Regions from separate parts of the Homo sapiens genome. Here region 2 is linked to region 1. The links come from fine-mapping of genetic effects on gene expression. A gene starts in region 1. The other region holds a variant in brackets. All regions are shown on one strand. Distances are between the middles of the regions.

The links. PIP is the estimated chance that this variant, and not a neighbour inherited with it, causes the effect.
Region 2: its variant is fine-mapped to the expression of KCNMB1 in amygdala (GTEx, PIP 0.93).

Annotation. Positions count from the first base shown.
Region 1 is chr5:170,386,735-170,391,128 of GRCh38, forward strand. KCNMB1 (potassium calcium-activated channel subfamily M regulatory beta subunit 1) reads right to left here and starts at 2,633. Exons shown (of 4, transcript NM_004137.4): 1 at 2,525-2,633. It overlaps KCNIP1-OT1 (KCNIP1 overlapping transcript 1), which reads left to right and starts at 2,759. Exons shown (of 3, transcript NR_109899.1): 1 at 2,759-2,869. It also overlaps a transcript of KCNIP1 not described here. RefSeq lists enhancers at 748-1,248, 1,249-1,749, 3,674-4,174, 4,175-4,394.
Region 2 is chr5:170,478,567-170,482,960 of GRCh38, forward strand. It overlaps a transcript of KCNIP1 not described here. Among named protein-coding and RNA genes, the nearest start is that of KCNIP1, 23 kb to the right of the region's middle. The variant C/CCTGA (reference allele first, on the strand shown) is at 1,816.

The sequences.
Region 1 (4,394 bases):
GAAAGAAGGCATCATGGTGGCCTCAGCGACTGCTTTCTTATTTCAGGGCTTGAAGCCACCTGGGACAAAGCAGAATGGGCACATTCTGCTGGTGGTTGCTTTCCTTCTCTCCTCTTTCTTTAGGCAGCAACTCCTTGTTTTTCCCCTGGACATTGACTCCACCCCAATGCAAGCAAAGATTCCACCCTCCCCTGCTAGGCTCCTGATCGCTCCCCCAGGAGTGTGAGTCTTGACAAAGACTTCAAGAAACAGCCCCTCAATCTATGCCGCCTGGAGCCACAGAGATGCCCAGCCATGGTCCCCGCGTGATTTCCCATGGTTCCGCAAGCTGTCCTAGAGCCTCTGGTAAATTTATTTGCTGTTGTTTTTATTTGTTTAAAGTAACCAGAGTCCATTTCTACCAAAAATACCAGGAAGCTATCAATGTAATCCTCCATTTTAGGGGAAATTTTAGGGGAATTTAGGGGAAATTTTAGCCAGATATCAGGGGGACTTTATTCTCCTTGCCAGGTCCCTAAAGTAATAAACATATTATGGTTTTTGTTTGTTTAATTAGCCAGTGTCCGGGTGACAGGCCTTAGTCCAAAGAGATTTTCTGCAAAGTGCTCTATTTTCTGCTCAGGCGTCTCTTAACTACTAGACTGTTTCAAATATTCAGAGATTCTTGACTCCCTCCCCTTAGCCAGGCTGCCCTCATACCCGGGCATCTCCGCTAAAGGGAAGAGACCAGGGTCAGGCACCACGGATACCCATCACACCTTCCCAGTGAGCTGGTCCACCTCCCCTATCGATCGGCAGAGGTGACATCCAATGACAACTTTTTCTCCTTTATTTGGCACCAGGAGGTGAGTTTCTCCTGCATTCTAATGGAGACATTATAAAAGCACAAGCAAGCAGAAATTGCCCCCGACAAAGAGAGATGTTTTATTCAACTCTTTTTATTCAATCCTTTTCCTCCTGTTCTGTGATCTTGTGGGAATGGGAGAGCCCATGCCTTTTTCTACCTGGCGTCAGTTGAACAAGACTCTCCATGTATTCACAGGTAAAGCAACAGAATCACCTGGAGGTAAGCTAAAAGCCCCAACAGCCTGCTTCCCCAGGACCTGCAAGGGTCACTGGCACTTGGCCCCACCCCAGATACTGTGAGACATAAATCATTTGAAGCCAATGGGAAATCCCATCTTGGAAGCCTAGGGCTGAGTGCCCACAACAAAGCCATTTCTCTCCTGGGGGAACTGGATCGCACCTGTGGGGGCTTCCTGTGGCTCCTTCCTGGCTAATCAGCCCCCCCCAGCGCCCAGGGCCATGGCCTCCTCTGCTATTTGGCTTCTAGTGCCCTCTCAGGCCCCTGGGCACTCCTGAGGCTGGTGAAGGCAGGAACCTGGTTTTACCAGTTTTAGGAGCTCAGAAGGAAAGGAAAGGAGAGGCTTCCCTGTCACAGAGAAGTCTGGAAACTTGGCTTATTCAGGTCTGACCCGTCTCTAATGGTCTGATGAGATTGTTGCCTGCACTGAGTGAGTTTATAGAGTCATGATAAATCCTCCTAAGACCATGCGTGGGGTTCAGTGTAGATATGACTTCAGCAAGAAGTTAGTATTCAGCATCCAAAGGGAGAACCTTTGGCGGGAGGAAGGATGGGAACTGTCAATATCCCCCAAGGGACAGAAAGAAAAGGAAGAAGTGGGTTTCAGCTATCATAGGAGGGATTTCAGTTAGACTGTAAGAAGAACTTCCCAGTTTTGAGCATTTCTAAATATCTCTGAAGTTCCAGGATATATCTTCCCATTTAGAAAGGTCACTTGAGATCTGGGATAGATTCAGAGAAGATGGAGAAGGACAAAGGAAGGCAGGACTTTGGAGTGTCCTGGGTGACCTGATAGCTGGGTCGACATCCTTTTCCTTAGAAGGACAAGGAATAGAGTACATTGTTGAACAGTTTGGTGGGGTGTGGACAGGGCGATTCTGAGGTCCTCAGACATGGAATCAAATCCTGGCTCTGCCACTTACACTTAGCAACCACATGACTGTGAAACGAGAACCATGGTACCTGCCTCAGAGAGTTCAGCTAAAGATCAAATGCCATATTGAGTATCAGACATGTATCATAGCACCTAGCCCCAAATCAGCCCCCAGTAAATATTAGCTATTACTACTAACGAAGGAAACCCTGAAAGTTTGGAGCAGAAGTCTGGACCCCTCTTGATGAATCTATTTTTGTCCCACCTCTCTACCGGTGACAAGTGCCAGCATTGGTGTTAATCTCCAGGCTGCAGCCTTCTGGCCACTCTGAGAACTGGGACCTAGAGGGCCAGGGCGCTTACTACCAGAGTAACCTGGCCACTGTGCCACCCTCCCCACTGGCCACCAGACCACGGGCCCTCCATCCAGAAGGACAGCCCCGAGAGGAAGGGAGTCCTCCTGCCTGCCTCCCTCCCTGCCCCGTGGCAGGCTGCTTTCCCCTGTCTCCCTCCAGCCCGGTCTTCAGAGAAATCACTTCCCAAGTGCTTTCAGGCCCGGTACTCACAGTCTTCCCGGCGTCCTGTGGGTCTTGAGCAGCAGACAGTTTCTTTCTGCCTGGACCCCCGCCCCCACCCCAAAAGAGGCCACAGAGCTTCAGCAGGAAGTTTGGCCTCCCCGCCCGTCTCCAGGGAAGCAGCTTTTGGTCCCCATCTGGGGCAAGCCTCCATGCCCAAACATGGTCAAGTCTGAGCACACAGCCTGGAGACACAGACTCGGAGAGCAGGTACCCAGCCCTGAGGAAGGCAGCTGTTACCCAAGCCCTGCACCTCCATCTTCCCAGAGTCTCGTGGGAAACAGATTTCAAACAACAACAGACAGCAAGACTGAGAAACTACGAAAGATCAGCCTGGTATATTTGGAAATATTTCTTCTTCTCTCTGTCTCTGTGGGCTGGCAAAGATGCCAGAAATAGGAAATGATTCTCCTTTTGTTGGCATGAGGAAGGGTGGAGTTGGGCTGGAGGGGTTGGGCTTGTCACTAGTCCCTGGCATATCCACGCTGGAGCAGCTACAGCTCCCTGCCTTTGGCACTTACGTGCTGTGTGACCCTGAGCAAGTTATGGCACCTCTCTGGGCCTCAGTTTCCTTTTTTGTTTTTGGTTTTACTCCCAAACTTATCGTTAAATGACCTCAGTTTTCTCACTTGTGTTACTGGCATTTTTAAAACCTACTTTGCTTTAGGGTAGTGATGGGAGTTAGAGACGGTGGGGATTTATGGCAAGGGGAGAGAACTGACTTTTTAAGGACCAACTGAGCTGAAGCTGGGAGTAGTGAGAGCTCCACAACTGCTTCCAACCAGGTCCAGGGACAGTCTGCTCACCAGGGGCCCTCCCAGAGACCGCGAAAGTACAGAGATTTCTTCCTAGCAATAAGACAAGTGAATGTCAGCATTTGCAGGCAAAAAACATGCTTTTAGATCTCTGCTTCTTCATCTGTAAAGTGGAAGTAAGGATTAAAAATCAGCAACAAAGGGCAGGCACAGTGGCCCACGCCCATAATCCCAGCACTTTGGGATGCCAAGGTAGATGGATTGCTCAAGCCCAGGAGTTTGAGACCATCCTGGGCAACATGGCGAAACCCCATCTCTACTAAAAATACAAAAATTAGTCGGGCATAGTGGTGCATGCCTGTGGTCCCAGCTACTTGGGAGGCTGAGGCAGGAGAATCGCTTGAACCTGGGAGGCGGAGGTTGCAGTGAGTCAAGATTGTGCCACTGCACTCTAGCCTGAACAGAGCGAGACCCCGTCTCAAAAAAAAAAAACAAATATATATATATATATATATATTTTCAACAAAACAACAAAAACAATCCCAGATATTGGGGCTTTCCTAAGTATCAGGCGTGGTGGTAGAAGGCAGCTTATCTCCACCCTTCACTTGACCCAAGAATCAAAGAACCTGAAACTGAGACTTGGAGGCTTGAAGTCACTGGTGCAACCCTAGGGGCCAGAACTAGATTCGAAGCTGGCCCTTCCAGATGGCACAGCTTGGTCTGTCTCTGATGACCCTGGGGCTGCTCTGAGACATTAAAAATCACCTCGATCATACAGTAAGCTGCCACCTGAGGCTCTGGAGGTCACCCTGAGTTTCCCCAGCCCCCAGGGAGGTGGGTGCAGCCTGGCCTTCCCTGCTGAGCGAGCTCACCACCTTCCTCCCTCCTGCCTCCAGCAGGCGCGAAATGAAGGCAGCCACTCAGGCCTCCCTGACACACTCTCAGGCGGTGAGTGCCCTTCTCCACCCCTTTCCTAATTGAATCTTATTAACAGGAGACTACAGTGTCTGTTTAATGGGCACCATAGCACCAGAGGGTCTAAGACCAGCTTCAGACCTTGCAGGCAGATTGACAGAGGGATGTAGGATCTGGAATTCAATCTC
Region 2 (4,394 bases), 92 kb after region 1:
CTGCAAGACTGTGCGACTCCACCATGGTCAGTTTCCCCGGGGAACCATCTCTCTACCAAGCCCAGTTTTCCATTGCAAGAACAATTGCCAAGATGTCTAAGTTTCTATGTGAGAATTTTGGCATCTTGGGTTCCTTTTAAATAGGACACACTTGTATGCTCTAAAGAAAAAAAGAAAAGGTTTCTCATGAAGCATTAGCTTTCAAGATTACAGTTCGGTAGGATGTTCAAGATGCTTAGGGTGAATAAAAATGACAGACAGCTGAACACTTCCTATAAATGAAACACCAATATAGATCTAAGTTTCATGCATGACTCTCAATGTGGTTAATGAAAAGGAAGATAAAAAAAAAAAAGGTTGGCCATATTTGCAGGGCATTTGCTCCCAAATGTTTCAATCCTGTTTTCTTTAGACTTTGAAAAGGGGGATTGCACGTTATCTGTCAAGAAGGCATCAAAGCAGAGAAATCCACAAATGTGTAGTGTCAGATAGAATTCAAGCCTTCAGAAAGGACTCCACTCCTTTGGTTACTAAGAGAACTAGGGGCTTGTATTTCTAAGATGTCACTAGCTGGAGGCGCTGAGCAGGTAATGGTCTATGTTTTCCTAGACTATAAAATCCTGATTATATGGTTTAATAAAATAAGAATCTCAGAGTTCTGATGGAAAACAAGTAAACTTCAGGTCTTAGCAGGCACTAGCAGAAAGCACCAGAGAAAACTGGGGGAGAGGTTAGGACTCCTGTCCCAAAGATCCCCCTCAATTATCCTGCCATGTTATCAGTTCCCTCTTTACATGTTACCAAACATGACTACTAATTTCTATTTTTTTCCAAGACTATTAGATGTATTCAAAATTCACTCTTCTTACAAGGATAGAGAAAAGTGCCTATCGATGCTTAATAACCCAACATATATTTAATAGAAGAATTAAATCACCTTCTGCAAAGGACCAAGAAAAGCTCCATTTGATCAATTCCTTTAAGACATGAAGACTTCTCCTTTTCTAAGAATCGCCATAGTAAAATGCAAGCTCAGCATGACATACCCCAAGGAAAAATGTATCTGTCCCTTCTGCTTTTACTACAGTTCCATAAGGGTAATACCGAGTTGTTTTGCCCACATGGGGGCTCTGGAATCTTGGCTGTGATGCATTGGTAGGATATTTGTCACCAAAACTGACTCAGCAATCAGTTAAATATTAAACAAAGCACTGATTAGTGTTCCTGATTCATATTTGTGCTTTGTTTAACATTTAACTTCCGAATTTTATACATCTATTAAACAATATTCCTCTTGACATTCGAACACTATCTGCACAATTAATAAATCAAAAACTTATTAAAAATTGAAACAATTAAAAATTCCCAAACTTATAAACCATTGTTTACAAAATTATTTAACCACACTCTCCAACACTTTTAAATAAAACCATAAGTTTAATATGTCAGACCCTTTTAAATGTTTCAAACACCTAAAAAGTCAGCAAAAATGCACACAAAACGTCATACTGATTGAAAAATATATATGCACACTTACCTTTACACTGGTTACAAAGGCATGAAGATTATGGGTATATATTGGTTTTAAAAAGTACTTTTATACTTATTCTTATATTTTCTCTGTTACTTTCTTAGAGTCAATGCGATCGTTTCCTAGGATTAGAGTATGAAGTGATACAGTTTCTCCTAAGAATACAAATTTCTTTCAGAACCAAAAGAAAAATAATCTCAGGCCAGCCAGCTCTGGGGTTACTGATTCTTATTTGAAACTGATAAAGTGTCTCCCAACATTATTGCACTTGAGCTTAAATGTGG[C/CCTGA]CTAAGAATATAAAAGTCCGTGCCTTCACATTGGTATCCTTTTCTGAGACCAGAGTGTTTCCTAAAGTGCGCTTCATCTCCTAGGAGACTAGGGATTTTTTTTTTTTTTTTTTGAGACAAAGTCTCGCTCTATCACCCAGGCTAGAGTGCAGTGTTGTGATCTCGGCTCACTGCAGCCTCTGCCTCCTGGGTTCAAGAGATTCTCATGCCACCACGCCTGGTTAATTTTTTGTATTTTTTGTATTTGAGATGGGGTCTCTCCATATTTCACAGGCTGGTCTCAAACTCCCAGGATCAAGTGATCCACCCACCTCAACCTCCCAAACTGCTGGGATTACAGGCGTGAGGCACTGCACCCGGCCAAGACGAGGAATTTAAACCCTGCAGTTTGCTGTCCTTACGAGCACATTTGGCCAATTATCCTTCCATGTTATCAGTTCCCTCTTTACATGTTACCAAGCATGACTACTAATTTCTATTTTTTTCCAGGACTATTAGTTGTATTCAAAATTCACTCTTTCCTTCTTACAAGGATAGAGAAAAGTGCCTATCGATGCTTAATAACCCAACATATATTTAATAGAAGAAATAATATCACCCATATATAAATCTGCCATTAAAAATAATATGAAATAAAACCCTATCGCATTTGCCATTTACATCAACTTTTCTCTTCATAGCTTCATTAGGAACTTACAGCTCTTCACAGACTCCATGTGTTTTAATTGATTATAGCCATCAATCTTATTTGATATTCAAAATCTCAGAGCTTGACCAGAGGAAACCTCTTTAATCTAGCTTCTTAGTCCTTCCAGAACCACCCTGTGATATTCTAGAAAGCATCCTTGCTTTCTGGTTACAAAAGAAACTTCCAGGCTTAAACCATTTGTTTTACCCTACTCAGGACAACCCTTCCAAAGAGCCCCTGTTTCTTTAAGTGGAGAAAACTGTTAGAGACAAAGTCTGGCCATTTAGGGGTACAGGAGAGTTGTGGTGGGCATTAGTACTACTCCTGCTGCTGCTGCTGCTGCTGCTGCTGTGTCCACTGTTAGTGACAGAAGTGGGAAAATATTTAAGTTGAGTTCACATTAGTGTTCCCAGTTTAGCGTGAGCATTGCTCCATTATGTTGTTCTAATGTAAAAATGTCAAACACATTTTTCTCAATGAGATACTTAACATTTTAACCCTTCATCCAAGCTATATGTTACACCTCACTTTTCTATAGTTGTATATTTAGAAAATAAATATTTATGAAATACTTGATATTTCTCATCAATCCTTGGTCACTCAATTGAAGGGTGTAGAAGTAAGGTCAGGTTCACCTTAGTGAGGGGCCTGCATCTAACCTTATCTGAAGGGGCTTATGAATTTGGGATTTATTACCTTGACAGAAAGAAATATTGAGAATGACCCCACCCATGCTTTATAGCAATCGCTCTTTATAGTTTATTTCATAGTGACAAGAAGGAACTCATCCATGGTGGGTTTTTCCCTGAGTGGTCTGTATGGTCATATCAGAACTGAAATCATCCCTTCTTGCTTCTGAGCCCCCGTTTCCAAGTCTTGTTCTTTGTTTCTGTAGGTAGTAAAGTGAATTCTTTAAATCCCTGCCCTCCATCAGCTGCTAAAGCATTCTGCTTCCCTCTGATAAGATTAACAGAATGTTGGCTGTGGTTACGGGATGCTTTGCAGTCTATGTCTTAAACCAAGCCAGCCATGTTAGCATTTCCTCTAGTGGTGGTGTTTTAGGCCAATTGAGAATGTGGGTGATATTAATATTTTCCAACCAGCTGATAACAGGAAAGACACTTCTGCTTGGAGTCCACTTTGAGAAGAGATTTATTATTTAGGCAGCACAGGACACCTCCATTAATCTTCCCCCAGCAGTGCCCATCTACCATCAAGTTCATATACTTTCCCCAGGGTTCAAAGAAGGGTATAATTTTAGCCAGCGATTAGTCAATATTTATCAATAAGAATAATAACAGTAAAATTACAATGGCCAATGTTTGAATCCCTAATGTGTGCCAGGCACAGTACGGGGCCTTTTGCAGCTATTATATCATAAAACCCTTACAACAGCCCCATGAAATTTGCACCATGATTTGCTTCATTTTACTTTTGGGGAAACCACGGATCAAGTAACTGAAGTGATTTCTCTAGGACTCACAGATGAGCGGTGGCAGAGCCTGGAATTAGATATATCTGATGTTAGTGTTTTGAGGAATCACTCTCCCCAAAAGCCATAGCTCCCAGACATTCTTATGTAATTTGTCTTTGCTGAGGCTTGGGTATTGATGATTTAAAAGTCCCCAGAGACCAGATTTCATCTGGTATGCTGTGGGAGTCAAGTAACGTCCAAGGCCAAGCCTGTCTGAGAGAGGTTTTTATTAGCTCCAAAATTATAATAACTTCCACAGCCTTCTTCCACCAATTCTGCCTTCCACTGAAACAGCGCTGGTGATGTTTAGAGGTATGAGTTTGGGACAATTATCAGGAGAAGCATTTTGGTGCTATTGTCCCACCCCTTCTGTCCTGAGAGGTTTTATCTGGTCTTTCAGTATTTCAAATAGGTCAT